2 linked regions of the Homo sapiens genome follow. The protein of the gene in region 1 interacts with the protein of each later gene in a biochemical or structural test. Each region holds a gene or a part of one and is shown on either strand. Other genes may lie near its edges.

What was found.
Region 2: the proteins of CYBA (region 1) and NOXO1 form a complex in vitro, tested with the Homo sapiens proteins (3 studies listed by IntAct).

Annotation. Positions count from the first base shown.
Region 1 is NC_000016.10:88,640,657-88,648,053, forward strand, and holds the end of CYBA (cytochrome b-245 light chain), read right to left. Parts: coding exon 7,389-7,397; intron 6,520-7,388; coding exon 6,445-6,519; intron 6,183-6,444; coding exon 6,099-6,182; intron 5,542-6,098; coding exon 5,460-5,541; intron 4,774-5,459; coding exon of another isoform or gene 4,510-4,773; exon of another isoform or gene 2,916-4,509; coding exon 2,697-2,915; 3' UTR 2,633-2,696; downstream 1-2,632. UniProt on the Homo sapiens protein: Subunit of NADPH oxidase complexes that is required for the NADPH oxidase activity that generates, in various cell types, superoxide from molecular oxygen utilizing NADPH as an electron donor.
Region 2 is NC_000016.10:1,976,490-1,993,878, reverse strand, and holds NOXO1 (NADPH oxidase organizer 1), read left to right. Parts: upstream 1-12,409; 5' UTR 12,410-12,699; coding exon 12,700-12,765; exon of another isoform or gene 12,766-12,859; coding exon 12,860-12,940; exon of another isoform or gene 12,941-13,147; coding exon 13,148-13,223; coding exon of another isoform or gene 13,224-13,238; exon of another isoform or gene 13,239-13,334; coding exon 13,335-13,512; exon of another isoform or gene 13,513-13,697; coding exon 13,698-13,882; exon of another isoform or gene 13,883-13,975; coding exon 13,976-14,089; exon of another isoform or gene 14,090-14,336; coding exon 14,337-14,454; exon of another isoform or gene 14,455-14,529; coding exon 14,530-14,827; 3' UTR 14,828-14,962; downstream 14,963-17,389. Other genes in the region: SYNGR3 (synaptogyrin-3), read right to left, coding at 807-1,016, 1,101-1,243, 1,668-1,905, 3,678-3,776; GFER (FAD-linked sulfhydryl oxidase ALR), read right to left, coding at 7,851-8,013, 8,936-9,132, 9,403-9,660; TBL3 (transducin beta-like protein 3), read right to left, coding at 15,194-15,327, 15,408-15,566, 15,659-15,730, 15,818-15,921, 16,079-16,137, 16,209-16,365, 16,453-16,523, 16,595-16,825 and 1 more. UniProt on the Homo sapiens protein: Constitutively potentiates the superoxide-generating activity of NOX1 and NOX3 and is required for the biogenesis of otoconia/otolith, which are crystalline structures of the inner ear involved in the perception of gravity.

The sequences.
Region 1 (7,397 bases):
AGGACACCCCTGGGAACAGGAACCAGCCTCCTTCCTCAAGCAGTGCCTTGAGCCCTATGCTTTGTAATGATGTGAGCGCCTAGGGGCACCCTCTCGGCCCCCAAGGCAAGTCTCTGAGGATGAACTGCAGGGCTGTCGGCTCAAGGCAGGGCCCCCAGCCTTCGTGGTTCGGATCAACATCCAAGGCCAAGCGCCCTCCCTGATGGTGAACTAGCCACGCTTCGGGACCCAGGCTCTGTTGGAGATTTTAGTTAAGGGGCCCCGGGGGGAGCAGCCCCAGTCGTGGAAAGGGGGCCCAGGCCTGTGACAGTCTCAGGGTCTCAGTCTCTAGGCCCCCGGCCCCAAGGGCTGACATTGCCATGGGGCTGCTGGGCAGTTGTTAGCCCCTCCCCTGCCTGGCCCCCTGGCTCACCCACCTACTGCGTCCAGGTGCCTGGAGATGGGGGTGGGGGTGCTGCACAGAAGAACAAGGACTCCACTCAGACTCCCAAAGCAAGAGGCCTCAGGGAAGACTTCCTGGAGGTGGTGGCCCTTGTCCAGGAGATGGAATTTTCATTCAACACATTTATTGAGTTTCTTTTCTTTCTTGAAAAAGGGTCTCGCTCTGTTGCCCAGGCTGGAGTGCAGTGTGGTATGACTTCAGCTCACTGCCACCCCCACCTTCTGAGTTCAAGCGATCCTCCCAGCTCAGCTTCCCAGTACAGGCGTGCACCACCACACCCAACTCATATTTGTATTTTTAGTGGAGGCGGGGTTTCGCCATGTTGGCCAGGTTGGTCTCGAACTCCTGAGCTCAAGTGATCCTCCCACCTCGGCCTCCCAGAGTGCTGGGATTACAGGCGTGAGCCACCGCACCCAGCCATATGAGTTTCTACTAAGCACCTGGCACTGGGAACAGGCCGAGAACAAAATGGTGAAAACCCTTCCTGCCTCCACGGTGACTAATGAAACAAGTGGTGTGTAGTCTGTGAGTGAGTCCAGGACAGAGGCTCTGGGGGAGGGGCTGCAGTTCTTTTTTTTTTTTTTGAGGAGTCTCGCTCTGGCCCAGGCTGGAGTGCAATGGTGCGATCTCGGCTCACTGCAAGCTCCGCCTCCCGGGTTCACACCATTCTCCTGCCTCAGCCTCCTGAGTAGCTGGGACTACAGGCGCCCGCCACCACGCCCGGCTAATTTTTTGTATTTTTAGTAGAGACGGGGTTTCACCGTGTTAGCCAGGATGGTCTCGATCTCCTGACCTCATGATCTGCCCGCCTCGGCCTCCCAAAGTGCTGGGATTACAGGCGTGAGCCACCGCGCCCGGCCAAGGGGCTGCAGTTCTAAGCAGAGGGTCAGGGAGGCCTCGAAGACCTGAAGGGGAGGAGGAAGGAGCCAGGCAGCCATGCAGGGAACAGCTCCAGGCAGCAGGAAGAGCCCATGCAAAGGCCCTGAGAAGACACATGCTGCGTGTGTCCAAGGGTCAGAGAGTGGCCTGCGTGGCTGATGCCAGGTGAGAGGGGGACCGCAGGGGCAGGGCAGGGCGCTGGGGGTGCAGATCATGTCTGCCCTGGGGCCATCAGAAGCTTGTGGCTGTCACTGGAGGTAGCTGAGCCTGTGGGTTCTGAGCCTGCGGATTCTGAGCCGGAGGCACTGGGGTGAGGCTTTGGGTTTCAATGGCAGCATCAGGATGGTTTCAGGGGATGAGGGCAGAGCGGGAGGCGGCAGGTGGCCTGGGTGGGGATGGCCCATGTAGCTGGGGTCTGGATTTGGGCCAGGATTGGATGTGGGGTGTGGGGGTTTCAAGGGTGACCTGAAGCTTGGTGACCTGGGGGGACGGCTGAGATGAGGCTGGATTGAGACGTCTGTATGGTGCCGAGTGTTGGCTGGTGGGGGGTGGATTCTGAAGGCCCCCAGGAACAGAGGACCCTGGCTCTGAAGTGTGAGTTGCTGGGAGAGCAGGTGGACAAGCAGCAGGCAAGGGCTTCTCCGGCCTCAGGGGAGTGGGTGCCTTGGCGAGAGCCCAAAGGTGGGGGACGTGGCTGACGCCGGGCAAAGCTTTGGGGGCACCGGGCTGGGGTGGTGGTGAGGACCTGTGGGCAGGTGTGTGTGCAGCCAGCCACAGCCTCCGCACAAGTGAGGGGAAGGGGTGGCCAGAAGCCCCTGCAACTTGGCCTGAGCGTCCTGGGCAGCTGGGGGGCCCCCCAGCATCAGTGTGGGGGCAAACAAGGCCACATCCGCCACCAGCTTCACCCCAGCTTCTACGGAAAAGAGGCGCAGGGTAGAGGCTCACCACGTGGCTCCGACCCTGTTCCCTTTTCACTTAACGCCAGCGGCCTCCTCTGGAATCCAAGCCCCTTAGGGAGGCGTTAGGTGTGGAGGGCCTGCAGGGCCTGCAGGAGCTGTCAAGGGAGGACTCTGCTGCCTCCTCCAGGCCCGGGAGGACCTTTCTAGGGAGGCACACACCTGGAATCCAGGTACTATATTTCGTGGAATATACGGTACCCGGGATTTCGTGTGCTGCTGAGAAGGAAGGCGATGCTGATGTTAATGAAACTGGAATGCGGCCCGGCTGGCAGGAAACGGGGTGCCTGCCCAGGCCTCGGGAACCATCGCTACCCCAGCCCCGCCCACCGGCCCCAGGCAGAGGCTCACGCGCTCCCGGCTTCGCTGCATTTATTGCAGGTGGGTGCACCTGGCGGGAGGGCAGGTCCGGGGCGAGGTCACACGACCTCGTCGGTCACCGGGATGGGGTTGACCTGGGGACCTCCCGGGGGTCCCCCCGCCGCCACCGCAGCCTCCTCCTCGCTGGGCTTCTTGCGGGCCTCGGCCGGGGGCCGCGGCGGGGGGTTGCTGGGCGGCTGCTTGATGGTGCCTCCGATCTGCGGCCGCTCCCGGGGCTTGGGCTCGATGGGCGTCCACTGCTCGCCACGCACAGCCGCCTGCGGGGCACTGAAGGGTTGAGCCGCGCCCCAGCGCCCGCCCTCCCTCCCTCCCTCCCTCCCCGGAGGCCCACCCCGCTAGGGGCCCTGGGACAGGCTCAAGTCTGAATCCCACGCAGGATGGTGTGACTGCCACTCAGAGAGGTTAAGTGACGCGCCCGAGGCCACACAGCCAGGACCTGGGTCGGCCTGACACCAGCCCAAGCTATTTCTTCATGCCAGGAGTGGGGCCCGAACCCCTGGGCTTCTGGAAGATCCCGTGGTGGACACTCCCAGATGCAAATTCTAGTACTCAAATTCTCCTCTCAAGGTGCCAAGGGCAGGGAAGGCAGGGAGGCAGGCCCGAGGTCCAGCAGGAGGGGTGGCCCAGGAGAGTAGCAGGCCCTGCTCCGTCTGGTGGGCGCCATTCACCCACGCTGGCCGGCAGCCCCCCAAGGGTGCCCAGGCATTTCTGCACATGGGGGTGGTGGGGGGAGAGCTTGAAGACCACGGGATTCCACTGGCTTTTACTAAAAATACAGACTCCTGGGCCCATGCCCGGAGGTTCCACTGCAACAGGTCAAGTGGACCTGGGAGTGTGTGCTTTTCATCTTCTATCCCATAATATCTGGTGGAAAAATATGTCACATCATATACGTCATGAACAGAAAGAGAAACTGGACATGTGTGATCCTACCTGACTCCAAAACGGAAACATTCCATTCTGAAAAGCAAAACTAGAAGGCTGATAGAAGAAAAGGCAGGAACGTGAAGGCAGGACCCAGGGCCAGGGAAAGGTGTTTTCACAAAGCACAGACCATAGAGCAGGTGAACAGGGAAACCTCTGCTCTTCCGTGCAGTGAAGGACTCCACGCGCCAAGTTAACAGACCCTCACCAGAAAGCATGAAGGCATCCCCAGTGTTTAAAGGTTACAAAGGCTAAATAGCTAAAATATATGTGGACTTCCTGCAACTTAAGAAAAAGACAATCAGGCCGGGCGCGGTGGCTCACGCCTGTAATCCCAGCACTTTGGGAGGCCGAGGCGGGCGGATCACAAGGTCAAGGAGATCCAGACCATCCTGGCTAACGCGGTGAAACCCCGTCTCTACTAAAAATACCAAAAATTAGCCAGGCATGGTGGCACGTGCCTGTAGTCCCAGCTACTCGGGAGGCTGAGGCAGGAGAATTGCTTGAACCCAGGAGGCGAAGGTTGCAGTGAGCCGAGATCACGCCACTGCACTCCAGCCTGGGCGATGGCGCGAGACTCCATCTCAAAAAAAAAAGAAGAAAAAGAAAAATACAAAAACCACAATAGAAAAATGGGCAAAGGATTTGAACAGGCAACTCAAGGGAGAAGAAACTCCAACAGCTCAAATCCACAGTCAGAGAAGGGCGAGTCCAAGCTCCACACGGCCAGCTCGTGCTGTGAAACTGGCAAGCGTGGGAGAAAGCCTAGTGCATGGTGGGAGAGATGGGGCCACATGGCTGGTGGTGGGTTGTCTGCTGAGGAGCAGCTGAGCCCGGCAGGGTGAACGGTGCAGAGGCTGATGCCTGACCCAGCAATTCCTCTCTGGGTTTAGCACAAGGAATTCCTCCCGAGGTCTCCAGGAGCCACTAGCTGTGCGTGGCAGCAGGGAGACGGGGGGGATGCGGGTGGCCCCCGGAAAACAAAGCAACAGCCCAGATGAGCACTTGGCAACAGGAAGGGGTTCTAAAGGAGAGTTCTGCCGGTGGCAGGTCAGTGAGGCTTGAAACAGAACTCCACTTCCATACGCGGAAGGCGTACACAGAAAGTGCTGCACCTTTCCCACGCACACACACTAGAAGACGCACAGCAAGGGGAGGGCAGTTGCCTCTGCGGGCAGGAGGGACTTGGCTCTATGGACAAAAGGATTTAAATAAGCAAAGTCTGAGGGCTCTGTCCACCCAGAGACCCCCGCAGTGAGAGGTGGCCTGCAGCCGTCTGTTCCGGAGCCCAGGGCAGGCAGAGGGCATTTCACCCAAGGCCTGGCCAGGCTGCGCCCTGTCCTCCCACCCATCCCTGGCCTCTCAGAGAGATCACTGTATCCCATGGGATGGGCAGCCTTCTAACAGGGTGCAGCAGTCATAAACCAAACGCAGGTGTCGGCAGTTTAAGAAAATGTCTGCGTCCTGGCACCGCCCATGAATCAGCGCGAATAGGGTTTAGGTGAGAAAAGCCTGATAATGGGACCCAAGCGCAGGCACGGTCTTCGGCCGGCTGCGTGACCCCAGGCCAGTCACAGCACCTCCCTGAGCCTCCGCATCTTTGTCTGTAAAGTGGGGACCCCAGTACCCCTCCCAGGGCTGTGGTGCGGGTTAATGAGGAAATGCAAGGAAATGACCCGACACACTAGACACGCCAAAAATGGCAGCAGCAACCGCTGCGTCCCCGCCGTGCTGTGAGCACACGCCCAGGCTCACACTTGCTCCCAGCCTTGGCTCAGCCTACAGAGCCGGCTTCAAGGGCCATGCGTGTCCGAGGGTGTCAGGGCAGGGGCTGGGGATGGGGGTGGCCGGGGCCGACCTCAGAGGGCGCCACTCACCAGTAGGTAGATGCCGCTCGCAATGGCCAGGCAGGCGGTCCCAAGGATGGTGGCCAGCAGGAAGCCGGCGGGCACCGAGAGCCTGGGGGACAGCGGGTGAGAGGCAGGGACACAGAAGGGCACTCAGAAAGGGGAACGGAGCCCCAGGTCTGGGGGCCAAGGCCACAAAGTCTCAGGACAAGGCAGACTGCAGACCCAGGGGACGTGCGCGGACCGGGGCTTGTTTCGGTCCTGGGTGTTCTCAGCCTTGATGTGGACACTAGCGGCTCTGGTGCACTTGCTCGGAGGAAGCAGCCACGTGTGGGTGTCCTGGCCTCAGCCGGCAGTAACCAGCAGACACACAGCACGGAACCCTCCACCCTACCAGGAAGCCCAGGCAAGACCCCCCAGCAGTGCATGCTGACCCCAGACCCTGGCGACGGATCGGAGCTCCTCGGATTTGGAGTGGATCCTTACAAATCCTGCACACTAGACAGCAGACACAGGCCCTGCCAGAGCCAGGGACCCGAATTTTTGTTTGGAAAAACACTGAGGTAAGTGGGGGTGGCTCCTGTCCAGGCAGCCCGGCCGGTGGGACAGTGGGGAGGGTCGGCTCCAAGCCCTCCTGAGCCCTAGAGGGGGTGCGGGACGGGGACTCACAGGAGATGCAGGACGGCCCGAACATAGTAATTCCTGGTAAAGGGCCCGAACAGCTTCACCACGGCGGTCATGTACTTCTGTCCCCTGGGGGAGGGAGGAAGGCGAGACGGCGCGGCTGGGCCTCTCCCACTCGGGACTCCTTTGCTGCCCTGCTGACCACCCCAGGGCACCCAGGCCTCTTTCCTCCCACAAAACACACCGGGCAGGCACCGGCCTTGGTTTACCCACAAGCACCAAAGGGTTGGTTCCGGAGCCTCCAAGTGAGAAACCAAGCTCCACCCAACCCTGTGAGCCCTGCCTGGGCCCCGCAGCCCCCGGAGAGACCCCAGAGCAGGAGGAGACTCACCAGCGCTCCATGGTGGAGCCCTTCTTCCTCTTCCCCCGGGGGTACTCCAGCAGGCACACAAACACGCCCGCCACACTGAAGCCATGTGGTTAAGGAACAGCCCAGCTCAGCCTGAGGGGCCACAGGGAACTCCCTTTACTGAAGACAACACAGAGAGGGGCCCGAGCACGGTGGCTCATGCCTGGAATCCCAGCATTTTGGGAGGCTGAGGCGGGAGGATCACTGGAGCCCAGGAGTTTGAGACCAGCCTGGGCAACATAGTGAGACCCTCATCTCTACAAAAAATTTAAAAGCCAGGTGCAGTGGTGTGTGCCTGTGGTCCCAGCTACTCCAGAGGCTGAGGTAAGAGGGTGGCCTGAGCCCAGGTGGAGGCTGCCATGAGTCACAGCTGCACCACTGCACTGCAGCCTGGGGGACAGAGCGAGACCCTGTCTCAAAAAAGGTCGGGGGCAGCCACTGCCTGAGGTCACAGAGCCAGGAGGCAGCCACGGGAGGTTCCAACAGGTCTGGCACTCGGGGCTGCCCACGCCCTCCCTCCCACCACCCTGCCCAGTGCTCCTTGTCGCAAGGTCCGGCTGGGCGGCAGGGCTGAGATGGGGCAGAGGAGGTAGAGGGGCCGGTCAAGGGGGATGACTGACAGGAGCGGGCAGAGGGGATCCCAGCAGTCCAACAGGGAGGCCTCAGTGCTGGCCCTGGCCCTCTGGTGACACCCCCTGCCCACCACTCACCAGGACTTAGACTGGCGGGTCTGCCGCTGATCGCCACATGGTCCTGGCGAGGGGCCTGGCTGCTGGGGCCTGGGCTGCCCAACCCGTGCACAGCCCACCCTGTGTCCCAGCCTGGCTGCGGTGGTGGGGAGCGGAGGCAAACAGCTCACTGTGAAGTGGCTCCCCAGCTCTGCCCTGGGCGTTCCCCGCCCACCCCAGCCTCAGGTGGAAGGATACATGGAGTAG
Region 2 (17,389 bases), about 87 Mb from region 1:
TTGTGGGGCACGGTGGCCAGCTGGAGCCTCTGGGCCTCTCTCCTGCTGAGGGGCTTGTCTTGCCTGGCACCCAGGCATCCTTCTCCTCTCCTGGCAAGGTCTTACTGAAGGGCTAGGACAGGGCTGGTGTCTTGGCCCACAGCTACCTTGTGCCTTCCTGGCCAGAACCACCCACACCTGGGCAGGGGCCGGGGCCACAGAGAGAGGAGCAGCTTGTGGAGTACTAGGAGGTGAAACCCGAAGACTGGACCATGATCACAACACTGACAGGGCTGGGCTGTTCTAGCAGCCTGTGAGAGAAAGTGGAGAGTGGCTCCGGACGGGACGCACCACCATGACAGAAACGAGACAGTCACTACCCACAGGGACATGGGATGGGAACAGTGGCCAGGATCCCCAGTCTTGGGGCGAGGGTGGTGTCTTTCCCCTGCCCCCGCTTTGTCCTGGGCAGCCCCTGCACCTGATCGTAGAGGGCAGCTGGACCCCCAACCCCAGAGTGAGCAGGTGTGGCCCAAGAGGGGAAAGCCTTCCCCAGGCCAGTCCATTCCAGGCTAGGGACACACGTCCTGGGCAGTGCTATCCCCTTCTCAGGACCTCAGTCCTGGGGCCAGGTGCTGAGGGACTGGGGGAACTTGGCAGGGGCAGCCCAGACACGCGGGTCCACCCCCTCTTGGCCCCGGATGGCGCAAAGCGGCCACCTACTCTGTCCGCGGCACTGAGCTGGAAGGACCCAAGGGAGGTCCCGGAGACCCTGGGGCCTGCGTTGGTGGGGTGGCCTTGGAGCCCTGGTCTGTGCCTGCCAGCCGCTAGTAGGCGGGCACCTGGTACCCTTTGGGGCTGGTGTCCAGGGTCTCGGTGAAGGGCGGGCTCTGGTAGGTCTCGGTGCCCTCCACGCCGCTGCCCACCGGATAGCCGGGGTAGGCCTGGCTCGCCCCGGTGCTCAGCTGTTCGGTGGCGAAGAGTGACATGTCGGTGCCCAGGCGGAACCGCTGCAGGGCCTTCACGGTGAGCGCCACCTGCGCGGGGCGGGGTCAGCGGGGTCAGCCGGGATCAGCCGAGCGCCCGCCCCTTCGCCCCGCCCTCCCGGGCCCCGCACTCACCCAGCTGAGGATGGAGAAGAAGCTGAAGGCGATGGCGGCCCGCGCCGCGTCCCCCGCCTGCGTCGTGGCCGGCCCTGGCGCCGTGCGCTGCCACTGATTGGTGAGGAAGCAGAAGCCCACGAACCACAGGAAGGACCAGAGTCCTGCGAACAGTGCGGCGCGTCAGGGCGACGCTCCACGCGGTGGCCCACGGCGGCCTCGCCCGGAGGAGGAAAGGTCGGTGGGCCCGAGGCTTGGGGCGCCTCGCCTGGGCTCGCCGCGTGGCGCGAGGTCCCGCCTCCCTCTCCTGCGCTGACCCCGCCCACCCGGGAGCGCCAGACCCGTTCCGCGCCCAGGCTCCGCCCAGACCCGGGCCCCGCCTACCTAGAAAGTCCCGCGGCGCTCCCCGTCCAGGCTCCGCCCCCTCCCCGCCCACCCGGGAGGCCCATTGACACTCCCTGCCTCAGTCCCCGCCCCTCGTCACGGCCACGCCCAGCTGGAAACTCCAGCGGTGTTCCCCGCCCAGGCCCCGCCCCCTCCCCGCCCACCCGGAAGGCTCTCCGCGCTCACCGCCCCGGCCCCGCCCACCTGAGAAGCCCAGGTCCAGCAACACCGCGCGCCGGCGGTCGCGGACGCTGCTGATTTGCTGGAAGCGCACATCGAGCAGCAGGAAGGCGGCGCAGGCGAGGAAGGCTCCGAGGCCCAGCGCGACGCCGAAGCGGCAGGCGCCCGCGTTCCCGTTGAACACGCAGCGCAGCTCGGGGCCGCTGTCGGTGTTCACGTAGCCCTCGTTGACGATGGGCCCGAAGACGGCGATGGAGAACACCTGCGTGCGGCGCGGCGCTCAGGGCCCTGCGGCGACCCGACCTCTGCGAGCCCGCCTCGAGCGCCCACGCCCCTGGGCCTGTCCCTGCGTTCCCAGGCCCGTATCTGGGTGGGGGGCGGTGTCACCTCTTTCTTTCCCGAACCCTCGCGTATTTAGTAATTATTGACAACACGGGCCGTTTAGTGAGCATCTACTATGCCCAGACATTGTGTTAAACAGCCACTTTACATGCGTCCCCTCACCAAATCCTCAGAAAGTCCCCGTGGGATCGCCATTGTTCTTATTCTCTTTATAAATGCGGGGGACATTGGGACCCCAACAGGTGAAGTGACTTGTCCGGGATCACATGGCTGACAAAAGCCGGGGTTGATTCAAGCCAGGTACTCTGCACCGCGTGGGCCCGTGGAGTCCCCTCAGAGCCCACTCAAGAGTGTGGGAACAGGAGCCTTCACCTGGGCCCGCGATTCCCAGGCTGGAGCCGGAACGGCGAAGGGGAGGTGAGAGTGCAGCAGGCAGAGCGGGGCGGGAGGGAGGGTATGGAGGCAGCGGAGCTGTTGCTTCCTGCGCGGTTGGGAACTGTCTGGCCTGTTTTCTAGCATGCAAATAGGGTGACGGGCACAGCTCATGCAGTGCTGGGACAGACATGTCCACCCAGCTTCCTGCACGTGGTGGGTACCCGAGGGATGACAGCCCCCACGTGACTGATTATTAATATCACCTGTAAGTGTTTGGGCTGAAAAGATGACACCGTTGACCTCTGAGGTTCCGTCAAACCTCAATGCCTCCTGCCCACCAGTTCCGGGAGACAGGCATGAGGGGGACCGCAGTCATTTTAACCAGCGCTGCACGGGGCAGCCCTGTGTTTCCAAGAAACGACCTCCAGCCTCAACCTCATCCCTTCGCTCCTTTCCCGCTCCAGCTCCGAGAGTGGAGCCAAGGGGGAAGCCGGGACATGCACTTGTCCCCAAGAGTGGGCCACAAGTCGGGACGTGCGCTCGGACCAAAACGCAGCGTCCTGCCTCCCGGTCTGGTCAGAGCCACTCCGCAGGGGAGGCCAAAGCCCCTGCCCCACCGTGGGCACCGCCCTCCTCCAAGACAGGCGCCGAGGTGCGGCTGGCCCAGAGGTTGCCACCTGGACAAAACCCAGAGCTCGGCACCCAACTGCCACCTCCCCTGCCGGAGGGAAGGAGCAGCAGGGCCCTCCCAGGGACGCCCCAGTGGGCTAGGCTGCTCCCAAACCTGCCTTCCACACCGCCGCCAGGAAGCCCTCCCAGCCCAGAGCCTCTCCTCCCTCAACTCACAGCTGGAACTGGGGGCCAGGGGACAGGCTCCCTGCCAAGGAGACCCGAGGGTGTGTGTGCGGGGGAAGGGGAGGCGCTTCTCGGTTCCCGTAGCCCCCTCCTGCCCCTCGGAGAATTCCGTCCCCACCCCGTCCCTGCTTCCAGGTCACGAGAACAGGAAAAACGGAGTAAGGGCTGCGGAAAGGGACTGAAATTAGACCCGGGGAGGAGGTAGGGGTAGAGGCGACCGGCGGTGACCTCTCAAGGTCCCTCTCCGGCGCCGCCGGCCCCTCCTCCGCCCGCAGGTGGGCGCGCCCTGCCCGGTGACGTCACCCCAACCTGAGGCCGGCGGGGGAGGGGCCGGCGAGGATGAGAGTGAGTGAGGTCGGGGGGCGAGAAGCAGGGGGCAGGGGGTAGGGGGCAGGGGGCTGGTAGGGGCCTGAAGGTCGCGAGGCAGGGGCGGGAGCGGGGGCCCGGGCAGGGACCACTCACCCAGGACGCGACCCGGAGCAGGGTCTGGGGCCGCCGCGCAAAGCTCACGGGGTCCAGGGCGGCCCCTGCGCGGCCCGCGCCGAAGGAGGCGCCCTCCATGGCCGGCCCGGGCGGGACGCGCGCCCCTGGCGCCTTCTGTCCGCCTGTCCGTCCGGCCGGCCCCGCCCGAGGCCGCTGCCGCTGCCGCTGATGCTGATGCTGATGCTACCAACGCTGCAGCCGCTGCCGCCTCCCGGGAGCGCGCGCCGGCCGCGGCGGGGACGCGCGGGACGGGGCGGGGCCGCGCCCGCGCCCCCCACTGGGTCCATGCGCGCGGGGCCGGGTCCCTCCTCTCCCTCCGCCGCGCCCACCTCCCATCCCCCACCCTCACCTGCCTGCCCCGGTCCCGAGATGGAGACCATCCTCAGGAACCCACCAGCCAGGTCCCCGGGGGCAGGGTGGGGCTCGGGTGCTGGGCGCAGACTTTGCTAGAGCCGGGAGGACAGACAGGAGGAGTCCGCTCCTCTGGGAAGGGCACTTGGGTGAGGGAGTAAAGGGGTAGGAGGTCCACGGGCTGCAGCATCTTCCCCCAACCCACGGGAGAGGGGACCGGCTCCCTGGCCCTGGTCCCAAGAAGACCAGATGGATAACTGGGGTCTTTCTCATGGCCCCCCACTGTGCTCTAGCTGCTATCACAGCTTCTAGCCTCTGGCGGGGAGGATCTGGTGGGAAGAAAGGCGTTGGCCCCAGGAGCACCTGTTGAGGGAGGGGACAGAGCCACCGTGGCCAGCGCCGCTGGGAGTGTTGGTTTCGGTGTCTCCGCTCCTTGCCCGTGGCCAGGTGGTGGTGCTCCCAATGCCCTCCCTACTCCTGGGTCTCCCCAGCGTACTTGCGGCGCCTAGTCTGGAATGGAGGGCAGGGAGCGGCATCAGAGACTAGGAGTCGGGTGGGGGTGGTGCCTGGCTGCCCTGTGTCCCGCTGAGTCCCCTCCACAGACCCCAGCCTTGGGTGCAACAAGGTCCCTCTCCTCATGTTCCTAGCAGGCTGGAAGTTCAGATGACTCCTAGGTTTCTGTCTAGAGCACTGAGATGTCTGCACTGACATTTACAGCGCCAAGCGCTTGACCTGTGTAGTGGCGGAGACTGTTACCACCCTGTACTTCAGATAATAAGCAACCCAGGTCCCTGCTACACGAGCCGGGTGCACAGATGGTGCTGCGTGGCCCAGCCCCCCTGGAGCTCATTCTTCAGCCTTGCTGGGCACAGGTGGGCAGAGCAGGTGTTGCCAGAGGCGCTACTCACTGTGTTCCAAGTCCATCACACTGTGCGTCCGATCACAACCCCTCTCACCTGTTGGCCACAGACCTCCCCTCTGTGTCATTCATTCTCTACTTCATCACTAACATCAGCACCCAGACATGCTGCACTTTCTCCTAAAAGCCAAACACTGTTGACCCCACCTCCCCTCCAGCTGCCTTACGTTACTGCTTCCTTTAGCAGCAAACTCTGCCTGCAACACCCTCCTCTCTCTCCCTCTGACCCGGCAGAATCAGCTCCCACCGCCACCTAAACTCAAGGTTGCCACTGACCTCTCCGTGCCAATCCCAAGGGCAAGTCTGATGCTGCTGTCGACTCATTTATTTCTTTAGTTATTTATTTATTTTTTGAGTTACAGTCGCACTCTGTTACCCAGGCTGGAGTGCAGTGGCGCAATCTTGGCTCACTGCAAGCTTTGCCTCAGGGGCTCAAGTGATTCTCCTACCTCAGCCACTGGAGTAGCTGGGATTCCAGGTGTGCCACCGCACCCAGCTAATTTTTTTTTTTTTTTTTTTTGTATTTTTAGTAGAGACGGGGTTTCGCCATGTTGACCAGGCTGGTCTCGAACTCCTGACTTCAAGTGATCTGCCCACCTTGGTTTCCCAAAGTGCTGGGATTACAGGCGTGAGCCACTATGCCCCTCCTGGAGGTCCTCCTCCCTCATGGGTCCTTCCTCTGTGACCTGTGAGCCTTAGGAGCCCAGGGCGCGATCCTGGGGAGGTCTCTCCCTCTGTGCTAACTCCTTTGGTCTGCGTGTCAACAGCTCTGGAACACCAGCTCAAGCCAGAACTTTTCCTTGCACTAGAGTTCCACTGGCCTGGATGCCTTCAAAAACAGACTCTGGCCTGGCGCAGTGGCTCACGCTTGTAATCTCAGCACCTTGGGAAGCTGAGGTGGGTGGTTCATGAGGTCAGGAGTTCAAGACCAGCCTGGCCAACACAGTGAAACCCTGTCTCTACTAAAAATACAAAAATTAGCAGGGGGTGGTGGTGGGCGCCTGTGATCCCAGCTGCTCGGGAGGCTGAGGCAGGAGAAATTGCTTGAACCCGGGAGATGGAGGTTGCAGTGAGCCGAGACTGCTCCACTGCACTCCAGCCTGGGCGACAGAGCTAGACTCTGTCTCAGAAAAACAAAACAACAACAAAAAGAAAAACAGATTCTAAGGCAAAGTGAAGTTTTATTCAGGAGTGAAACTTTAAGGAAGACAGGGAAAAAGGGAAGGCGGTGGGGGGGGCAGGGGGGCAGGGGAGGGACAGCAGATACAGGCGGTATGTTCCTAAGCTGAACACAGCCTTCCCAGAGGGCCCAGCTGCTTCCTGAGGCACTCACAGGCCTCGGGAAAGGCCAGAGAGAAGCGCGCTGTGTCTGGGCGAGGAAGGGACACCTCCTCTCCTGGCTGCCCCCCATCTCCCCTCTCTTATTTGTGCCACCTGGCCCCTCTGGGCAGCCTCTACAGAAGCCAGCAGCCGCACGGGGCCAATCTGGTGGGGACATAGCAGCTCCCTCCATGGAGGCCTGAGGCGGCCATGCCAAGGTGGGCCTGCGCCCAGGGAAAGGCTGAGACTCCTGGAGGATAGAGGTCCCTGGAGTTTTATGACCACAGGACACACTGTTGCTGGGCTGCTCTGGCTGGGGAGGCCCAAAGGCTGGGTCCCAGTCACCCCCCACCTTGCTGCACTCAGCCTTCTCCATCTCTGACCCACACGGCGGCTCCCAGCAGTCTCCTCGGACTCCATCCTCACCCCATGAGTTCTCTGGCTCTCCCTTTAACGTACCCCGCATCTGTCCCCGCCGTGGGGTGGGTCTTCCTCTTGGTGGTCACTCGGTGACTGCCCCGGCTTCCTCCCCACCCCTCCTGTTCCACCCTTACCTGCCTCATCCCAGCTCAGCAGCCAGAGGACCCTTCAAAGCCACATCACTCCATGCCATCCCCTGGCTCCAAACCCGCCAAGAACTTCCTGTCAGGGGAACTAGGGGTAGAAGCCATGGCTTTGCTGGGGCCTTGGAGACCTCGTGCCGTCTGGCCTCCCAGTACTCCTACATCAGCTACTCTGGCCCCCCTGCCCCAACCAATCAACGTCCTTGCTGTTCCTGGCTCACTCTCACCCTGTGGTCTCTCTCTCCTGAGGAACCAGGACCCCAGCAGGAAATGCAGCTGAGCACAGAGGGATGGAACAAGCCCTGTCTACTGCTTTATTAAGCCCCAGCAGAAAATATACTGAAGCCAGGTTCTCAGTCACTTCAGCGTTTCATTTGGGCTTCAAACTCTGATGAAGTGAGCCCCACGAATCCCCTGTGGACAGGCATGACACAACGCTGGCAGGCATGTGCCAGGCAGGGAGAGGGTAGGATGGCTGGTGGACCCTCAGAAAGACCCGACCTGAGCTTTCCCTGTAGGGACTGAGCAGAGTGGAGAATTGAGCCCCCTAAAGTGAGCAGCACAGAGCCATGGGGGGCAGGGGCATCCCTGGCTGCATAGTGGGAAGGCAATGGCCTGGCCGCCAGGGACAGGCACAGGGATGCCCAGCCAGGCCCGCTGTCTTCCCGTGTGAGGAGTGAGGCGCCAGGGTATGCGGTGGGCAGGAAGCTACATCCTGAATGTCAAGGGGCAGCCCAGGCTGCTCCTCCTTCCCTCCCCTGCAGTTCAGCTGCAGCTCCTTGGGGTCTCCACTGAGGAGGGGGCCAGTGGGTACCTGCTGTGGGCACCTCCACTTCTGCTCCAAACCTAAGAGGGGCAGGGCAGGTCCCCACAGGCAGTGTCCTGGGGACCACCCAACTGAGACACAACAGGCTCTGGCTGTGATGCACTTTAATGAGTGCCCTGCCCCTATCCAACCATGCCTGGCTAGCTGTCCCATGAGCTCTGGCTGACCACCCTCTAGTCACAGGAGCCATCCTTCCAGCCGTCGCGCCAGCGCTCATCCACTTTTGAGCAGTCGAAGTCAGGCTTGCCCAGCTTGCGGTTCACTTCATTGTGCAGGTGGCACAGCCACTGTGTGAAGCATGCCCGGGTGCGGGTGTCTGGGTGGTTCCTGCACAGCCTGTGTAGGGAGAGCAGGTAAAGAATGAGAGGACGCAGCGGCTCCACTGCCCCTGCCAGTTCCCTGTCTGCTGTCAAGGAAGGAGAGCTGGGGCACTGCTGTGAACTACACCTGGGAGTGCCCTTATGCTCCAAGGTACAGGCACTCCCAGAACAGGGCTGACCCTGCAGCTCCCCGGGTGTGATGAACTCCCAGGGCTGCGCAAACACCCACCTGGACAGCTTGGCAAACTCCAACGAGGCCTCAAGGCAACACATTACAGCACAGACCTGGCAATTTTATAAGCTCCTAACACCCAGGAAGCGGCATCCAGTGTCCCTGGCCTCAGGCAGAGTGTGGCCTGGGTGGGGCTGGGCACAGCCTTGTAACTGAAAACTGGACTTGTTTCTTAGCATCTGAGGGCAGGCCCTGGTGCGTCAGTTCAGCAAGAGACTTCATTCTAACTGACCAGCCTTATAGCAACAATGGCGGCTCTACCCTATACATCTGGCCTAGAAACACCTGCAAGGGCCAGTGCTGGCTCTTGGATCCCTCAGTGAGGAAGAGATGGCTCTTGGGAGCAAAAGCAGTGGATTTCCAAGATTTTAAAACCAGAAGTCCTACTCTAGAAGTCAGGCAAAGTGGAGTCTTCCCTAACTTGCGGGAAACCGCCTTCAGTGCCAGACAAGGCAGGGAATCCCTTCCTGGAAGCCCTGTGGCTGTGGCAGGAGCAGTACCCAGCAGCAGATCCCGACAGCTTGGCTTCTGAGACGAGAGGAGGAGGCTCAGATAGCCCCAGTCCTCACCTGTTGGAGGTCCCTGCTCCTCAGCAAACTTCTGCCACCTCTGCATCCGTTTCTCTACGTTCCCCGCTATAACGTCAGCCAGGAGCCCCAGGCCCAGGCTCCAGTGCAAAGCTCTGCTGCGTGCAAACACATCTTACCTTTTTCTTAGGTCTTCAGCACACTCCTCACAGGGGTAAAACTTAGAAAATAAATGTATGAACTGGGCCATGTCTTGCTGCTGTTCTGGGGTGGGCAGGTCGGGGTAGTAGGCGGCCAGGGTGTGGAGGACAGCCCAGCTGTGGCGGCCCAGTTCCTCGCGATCCGGCGGGCAGTCCTCCCTAAACTTGGTGTCCCGCTGCGGAAGCAGGCCGACCGAGAGTGAGTTCATTCTCCGAACAAAGGCGCCCAAAGCTCCCCACTGTACGGCCCAGCCGGTGGCCCACTGGACTCCGGCCAAAGTCCTGCAGACGATCCAACCCACGCGCGGATGAAGGCTGTAAGGCCGGGCCTACCCGGGGGGCAAGGTTCAGGGACAGGCAACCCTGGGAAGCTCTGCCGGGGTACCTGGGCGGGGGCGGGGACAGGGGCTGCGCGGGGCTGGGAGAAATCGGGCAGGGAACTGCACCTTCTGCTGCGTCCGCATCCACGTCTTGAAGTCGACGCAGGCCCGGCACGGCCGCCTCCGGGAGGCGTCCTCGGCGACAGGAGAATCGGAGGTCGGCGCCTGGGCTGGCGTCGAGGCCGAGGCGGCCGCGTCTCTCCGCCCCGCGCCCCGGCCCCGCGCGTCGGTCGCCAGGTCGTCCATCATCTCGGAGCGCGCGCCCCCCGGCAGGAAGAAGAGGTTCCCGCCGTGGAAGCGGCCCCGCTCGCCGGGCGCCGCCATGTTGCCCGCGCAAGGCCTGCCGGGTCAGCTCGGCCTCCAGATGAGCCTCCAGGTCAGCCTCCAGGCCAGCGCGCGGCCACAGGAGCCGGAGGCGCGCGCCGTGCTCGCGGGGGCCGGGCCCGAGCCGGGGCTGGGGGCAGAGTCGGGGGCGGTGCCTGCTTGCGGGCCCGTGTGGAGGCGGAGCCAGAGGCCGCGGCGCTGGCCGGGCCCGAGGACAGGGGCGGGGACGGAGCAGGAGGGTCGGACCCTGCTGGCGCCCTCAGGCGTCGATCCGCGGCGCACGCAGGGGTTGCGCCGTCCGTGGCGGCCGTCCCGCTTTCTCCAGTAAAAGAGCAGTGTGTGGCGCAAGGTGCGCCTCGGCCGCGCTGTGGACCCGAGCTGACACCCAGGCAAAGTCCGTGTTGCGGCCCGCGACGTCCCCATCGCTCCGTTCTGAGTGTCCTGCGTGCCTGCGGCCAGGCTTTGTGCCCTCCGCTGAGGGGCGCGTCCACCCGCTGGCTGCCAAGCGCTCTCTCAACGCGGGCCGGGCGTGACCGCACAGATTGCGGCGCGCGCTAGGGTCCTGGGCTCTTGTCCCCTCCCTGGCGCCATGGCAACGGGCGTCTGGCAACGCAGGGCGCGGCGCGGCCGCAGAGGGTTGGCGCGTGCCTTGGGCTCCCTGGCGCCCCTCGCCGGCTGTCGCGGATCCTAGAGCCTGGGATGAGGGGTCGGGCTCCCGGTTGGAGCGGCCTCTGGGATTCCTGTGCCTCCTTGCGTTCATTTATCCATTCCGCTATTATTTGCGCAGTGACCGCTCTGTTCCAAGCGCTGTTCCAAGTGCTGGGCAGAGCAGGGAACACAATTCTGTTCCCTGACCTTCTCTGTTCATAATCCAGTGGTCAAGACAGGAAAAAAAAACAAGGACTCACACTCATAAATGTTCACGTACAAACTGGTGGGTCCATGCAAGGGTGTAGTAAATCTGGAAGGCCTCCTTGAGGAGGTGACCCTTTCTGAAGGATGAGGAATCAGCTGAGGAGCGCCTTCGAGACCAAGCCCAAGGTGGCAGGGTCTTGGCATTTTGCAGGAACAAAAACGCCAGTGGGACGCTAGGGAGGGTTGTAAGGTGGGAGGGGAGATCCAGGGACGGACAGGGGCCCACCAAAGACTTGGTCGGCAGCTTCGGGGATTGGGAATTTATTATAACGGTAGGAGGGAAGATGCTAGACAGTTTTGGGCAAGGTTACCCAATCTGATCCCATTTCAGTTTGCTGCAGATTCCGCTGGCTATCATATGGGGAGTGGATTTCTTTTTTTTTTTTGAGACAGGGTCTTGTTCCGTTACCCAGGGTGGAGTGCAGTGGCGCGATCTTGTTCACTGCAGCCGCGACTGCTTAGGCTCAAGTGATCTCCCACCTCAGCCTCCCAAGTAGACTACAGGCACACGCCACCACGCCCAGCTAATTTTTGTATTTTTGGGGGGCACAGATGGAGGTCTCAACATGTTGCCCAGACTGGTCTCGAACTCCTGAGCTCAAGCAATCCCCCTGCCTCGGCCTCCCAAAGTACTTGGATTACAGGTGAGGCACTGTGTCTGTCCTTGGAGTGGATTTTGTAGGGGCAAGTGAGGAGCATACAGATGGAGGGTGGGGTGTACTATTCAGGCAAGAAAAGAGGGTAGGGGAGGAAAAAGTGGAAACCATGCAGGGCTGATGGGGTGTGGGGCAGGAGCTGTCAGCTGGGGTAGGCAGGTGGCCTCAGAATCCCTCTAGGCCTCTGCTTGTGAATAAATCCTCCCCAGCTTCTCCTGTCTTCCAGGGGAGCAAGGTCTCCCCTGGGTTCACACGCTGGACCCCACCAGGTCAGCTGGGCCCTCAGCTGAGACAGGGAGAAGGTGACAGCTGGCTGGGGGAACCCTGCAAATCAGCCCTATGTGAGCAGGTGTTCATTGCCCATGCCAAGACCAGGGACAGCTTGAGGGCATGAGAGAGAGTGCTGGTGGGACAGACACACAAAGGCCCTTTGTTGCAGCCAGGGCAGCTTCCTGGAGGGATGCCTTAGAGGCTGACTGCTCCCTGAAGGGGCTGGAGTAGGTGCATCCCAACACAGAACTGGTGGCCCCAGCACGAGGAAAAACCACTGTGTGCCAGGGTTGAATGTGGCTTCCGAAGCCCGAACTATAAGGAAGCAGCCAGAGAGGTGGGGCACCTGGGCGAGCCTCTGCCCAGGCCATGTTTGCAGTAAGTCATGGCAAATCGTGAATTGAGAGGTGGTTCTCAAAACAGCCCTAGTGACCACTTCCCTGACCACCACCCCCACCCACCAAATGCCAGTGACTGCACAGATGGGCCCTCTTTCTCCTACCCCAAGTCTCCTCACTGCAGGGGAACCCCTGGGGTGAGCCTGTGAGGTCTGCCCCTCCCCCAGCATGTATAGAACAGCTCACAATAATTACGCATTTAACACACATTTCCTCCTCTATGAGTTGGGGACATTAAGAGACCTTTCCTCCAGCATTAGGATTAAGTCAGACAAAGCACTTAAAGCTGTAAGCACTGAGTCCTTGGTTCTGCACAGAAATCCCCAGGCCAGTTCAAAGTTGTTGGGCGCACCCTGGCAGGGCAATTACCTCACAGGGTAGGGGAATCCAGAGAGGTGGGCAGGACAGGTGGCGCTTTGATTAGCCCTGCCTTCTCCTCCCTCCTCCTGTGGCCAGAGGCAGGCAGGAGGGCCCCAGGCAGCAGTCCCGCCTACCCTTCGCCCCTTCTTCAGTCTTGCACGCCTCCAGGGCTGGAAAGCTCATTCTTCTTCTTCCTCCCAGCAGCTCTGCCTGGAAGTCCCCCAATCCCTGTGCTCCTGCCCCCAGATCGTGGGCTTGGGGGACAGCAAGAAAGCTGCAAAGGACTCAGCTGGGGCGGCTCCACAAGGACCCCACAGGCTTGAGGTGTTGCCAGGATTCTATCCCAGGGGGTTTTCTGGGTCCCCCAGAGCCCTCTCAAGCACGGGGAGGCAGAAGGGTCCTCGCCCATTTCAGGAATCTGCAGCCTGGAAGCCACAGCCATGGCAGGCCCCCGATACCCAGTTTCAGTGCAAGGGGCAGCCCTGGTGCAGATCAAGAGGCTCCAAGTAAGACCTGGCTGGGTCCTTAGTGGCCCCAAGGGATAGGAAGGGGGTGCCTGGACCAGCACCTCCACGGCACTCCCAACTTTTTGTCCCCCAGACGTTTGCCTTCTCTGTGCGCTGGTCAGACGGCAGCGACACCTTCGTGCGCAGGAGTTGGGACGAATTCAGGCAGCTCAAGGTGAGTGACCCTGGGCCACCCTGATGCCGCGGTGGCGGCTTCCCCACGCGGCTGCCTCCCACTGGACTGCCTCCCATCAGTGACTCCCACTGGAGGCCCTTCGTCCCTGCTGAAGCTCCCAGCCCCTGCCATCCGGGTGAGGGACCCCGCCCTCTCAAGGGTGCACAGTGGGCTCTGGAAGACCAATGCCCTGGTTCCCGCCCTCAGAAGACCCTCAAGGAGACCTTCCCGGTGGAGGCGGGCCTGCTGCGGAGATCTGACCGCGTTCTCCCAAAGCTTCTCGGTCAGGCCAGCCTGGGTACGGGAGCGGGGAAGGCGGTGGCTTGCCTGGGGGCGCCAGGGACCAGTGAAGCCCAAAGCGGCGTATCACAGTACGTTTTTGTGGTGCCTTAAGATGCACCACTGTTGGGACGCGTGGGGCGCACGAGCCGCGGCCTGGCGCGCCTGCAGCTGTTGGAAACCTATTCTCGGAGGCTGCTGGCGACTGCAGAGCGCGTGGCACGGAGCCCGACGATCACTGGCTTCTTCGCACCGCAACCCCTGGACCTGGAGCCCGCGCTGCCACCCGGCAGGTGCCTGACTCGCCCCAAACTCCCAGCATGCAGCGGCGTTTGGAGCTGGGAGAGGTCCAGGGTGGGGGGGAACAGCCAGCGAATAGGGGCAGAGAGTGGGAGGCTGGCGGTCTTGCCGGGGTGGCGCCCCCAGTTTCACCCTCCCCATCCGCCTACCTCTCACTCGTACGGGCTGCCCTTCCCAGCCGGGTGATCCTGCCCACCCCAGAGGAGCAGCCTCTTTCTCGCGCTGCGGGCCGCCTCTCCATCCACAGTCTGGAGGCTCAGAGCCTGCGCTGCCTGCAGCCCTTCTGTACCCAGGACACGCGGGATAGGCCTTTTCAGGCGCAGGCCCAGGAGAGCCTGGACGTGCTGCTGCGGCACCCCTCAGGTAGGGCCCCCCAAGAACCCAGGGATTTGCTCCTCTGCTCCTGGACCCGAGGGAGCCTCGAGATTTGAGTCCCTGCCCGCTTCTTGCGCACAGGCTGGTGGCTGGTGGAGAACGAAGACCGGCAGACCGCCTGGTTTCCAGCGCCCTACCTGGAGGAGGCGGCCCCGGGCCAAGGCCGGGAGGGAGGCCCGTCCCTAGGGAGCAGCGGTATGCGCCTAACCCCACCCCTCACGCCACCACTGCGGCTTGACCGTGTGGCAAGACTGGGCCAGAAGCACCGCGGGCAGGGCGGGCCAGGAGCCCGTGCTTGGTCTCCGCACCTAGAGGAAGCCCCGAACCGGTCTTAGAGCGGCCCCGCCGTCAGCAGACTCAAGCAAGGAGAATGTGGAGAAGGGTGCGGGCGGGCCTCGTCCTCTGTGGCCCCGCGGTGACTCCAAACACCCACTCCCACCAGGTCCCCAGTTCTGTGCTTCCCGCGCCTACGAGAGCAGCCGCGCAGATGAGCTGTCCGTGCCCGCGGGGGCGCGCGTGCGCGTGTTGGAAACGTCAGACCGCGGCTGGTGGCTATGCAGGTACGCGGGAGCGGGCGTGGGCAGGGCAGGCTAGCCGAGGCGGGCGGGGCCCTAACCACACCCCGCCCCTCGCAGGTACGGCGACCGGGCGGGCCTACTCCCCGCGGTGCTGCTGCGGCCGGAAGGGCTGGGCGCTCTCCTGAGCGGGACGGGGTTCCGTGGAGGAGACGACCCGGCGGGTGAGGCCCGGGGCTTCCCTGAACCCTCCCAGGCCACCGCCCCTCCCCCCACCGTGCCCACCCGACCTTCGCCGGGCGCCATCCAGAGCCGCTGCTGCACCGTCACACGCAGGGCCCTGGAGCGGCGCCCACGGCGCCAGGGCCGCCCTCGAGGGTGCGTGGACTCTGTGCCGCACCCCACGACGGAGCAGTGAGCGCGAGGATCCCGATGAGGGGATGGACCGCGCCATCCCAGGGCTGGGGAGGAGCGGGGAGGGCGGATCTCCCTGGCCAGCAGGGATGGGAGGGGGCCATTTGCTGTTCCTCTGAGTAAAGCTTGTTCTGCATGACCCCCACCGTCTAAGCGTGCGGAGCCGCGGGCTGGATCTCTGCCAGGCCAGGGTGCGGGATGGGCGTGGCAGGGCCGAGACCATCAGCTCCAGTGCCCTTCTGGCTGGCTAGGTAGGGTGTTGGCCAGGGTGGGGGGCTGGACTGCAGTCCAGAGAGACAGAGCCGGCCAGGAGAGCGGCCTTTATGGGTTTTCCAGGGGTTCAGGATGGACTGGAGAGAGGCCGGACCGGCTAGGGCAGTGCGCCTTTATGGGTTTCCCAGGGGGTGGGGGCGGCGGCCGGCACAGGGAGCTTCATGTTGTGCCACAGGAAGTCCAAGAAAGCGGCGGCCTGGAGGGTCCTGCTGAGCCGCTGAAAGTGCCGCTCTGGGGTTGGACAGAGGGAGGTCAGGGGGGTGGTCCACACGCCCACCAGGATCCCCCAACCCCAGGCTGTGCCCACATACCAGTGTAGGGCAGCAGGGCCTCAAGCGCTGCCCGCACGCCTTCGTAGGCCAGCAGCTCCTCGGGGGCCTCTCGCCTCAAGAGCACACCCAGCACGGCCTGGGCCTCGTGGCAGTGCCGCGAGTTGGTGTTCCACGTGACGCAGAAGCGCAGCAGGGCCTCTGTGGGCAACAGGACCCTCATCGTCTTGCCCAGCCAATCTGCCATGACTGGCCCTTGCCCACCGGGCCACCCACCCTGACTGGCCGCCAACCTTTCTGGTCGCGCCGCAGTCGGAGCATGGTGGCTTCCAGCTTCTCGCAGGCCTCAGGGTCCCTCCGGATGGCTGTGGGAGAAGGGAAGGCTGAGCTGGGGAAAGCAGAGCCCAGTGGTCCGAAGACCCAGCCCCTCGCCCCCCGGGGTGGGCACTGACCCTGGATGACAGTCAGCACGGTGTGGGGCCGATCCAGGGAGATGGCCAGGCCCAGCGCCCGCAGGTACCGCTTCTCATGCAGCAGGTTGTCCAGCTCTTGCTGCCTGTGGGGAGGGGAGGAGAGGCCACTGAGGGCCGCTGGCTGGGGCTGCAGGCAGAGCCATCGGAGTCAGCAGGCAGGGAGCCTGGCACTCAGCCTCGTTTTCCCTACAGCACAGAGCAGGGCTGATGCGGGGAGGGGCGCCACTGCCCTGGCCTTACCTGACCACCTGCTCCTCTTGCCTGGCCTGCTCCTCTGCCTGCTCCGCCTCGGTCACATCCTGGGGTTAGACTAGGGTCAGATGGGGCCTCCACTCCACCCCGACTCTTCCCTGCCCTTGGGGCCCACAACCTTCCAGAGGATGACTCGGGAGTCACTGGCCCCAGTGAGGGCGTGGTCGTCCAGCCGGCTGCAGTGCAGCCCCCAGACCTTGTCCTCGTGGGCATCCAGCGTCCGCACACACTCGTTGTTCTTGATGGTCCAGAGCTTCACGAGGCCATCCGAACCGCTGGGTTTGGGGTGGGGAGAGGCTCAGCGTCAGGCAGGTCCCCCCGCCACCCCCCACTCCATCGCTGCCCCACCCCAGCCCACTCACCTGGACAGCAGCTGCGTGCCACGGCTCACAAAGGCCACCTTCAGCACAGAAGCATCGTGCCCCTCAAATGTCTGCAAGGTGGGGGGTAGGGCATGAGATGTCACCAGGGCGGGAAGTGGGGAGGGTCTGGAGCGCCACTTACCTTGAGACAGCTGAAGTCCTGGAGTGCCCAGAGCTTGATGGTGCCATCAGCTGAGGCCGTGGCCAGCACCTGGTCCATGGGAGAGAACTGGACGCACCAGAGGCCACGCCGGTGGCCTGAGAAGACACCCAGCAGCTGGCACTGTGGCAGGGCCCAGAGCTTGGCCGTGCGGTCCTGTGAGCCTGTGGCCAGCAGCTTGTCGTTGGGGGCAATAGCCACGCTGTTGATGTCCTGGCAATGGGAGAAGGTGGTGGCTCAGCAATCCCCCATCTTCCCCCAGCAAGGGCTTGGCCACACCCCCACCCCAGTGGCTATGGAGTCACCTTATCATGGCAGCGCTGAGTGGTCTGGGCCTGCAGGAGGATAGGGCCGTTGTCTGGGGCTGTGTTCTTGGACAGCAAGGCTTTGGGAAGAGGCCACAGCTTCACAGTGCAGTCCTGGCTGCCTGTCACCAGGAAGGACTCCTTCAGCCTGTGACCCAACAGGAGAGGAGGAGACACAGCTGAGCCCCAGCCAGCCCTGATGGCCAGCTCCCCACAGGGCCAGGCTGGGAGCCCACGGTCCAGACCACGGGGCCTGTCCCAGGATGCGGGTTGGCCTGGGTCACCCCCAGGCACCTGTAGGATCAAGCCCTGTCTACATTGTCCACCCGCAGCACCGGGTGGCTCAGCCCTAGCCACAGGACCCTGTGCCTACATGCAGGGGTCACCTCTCCACCTGGGCCTCGTGCAGGGTCATTCTCTCTGCCTAATGCCCTTCCCCCTTTAACCACTTCACCAGGGCTACTTCTGAGGA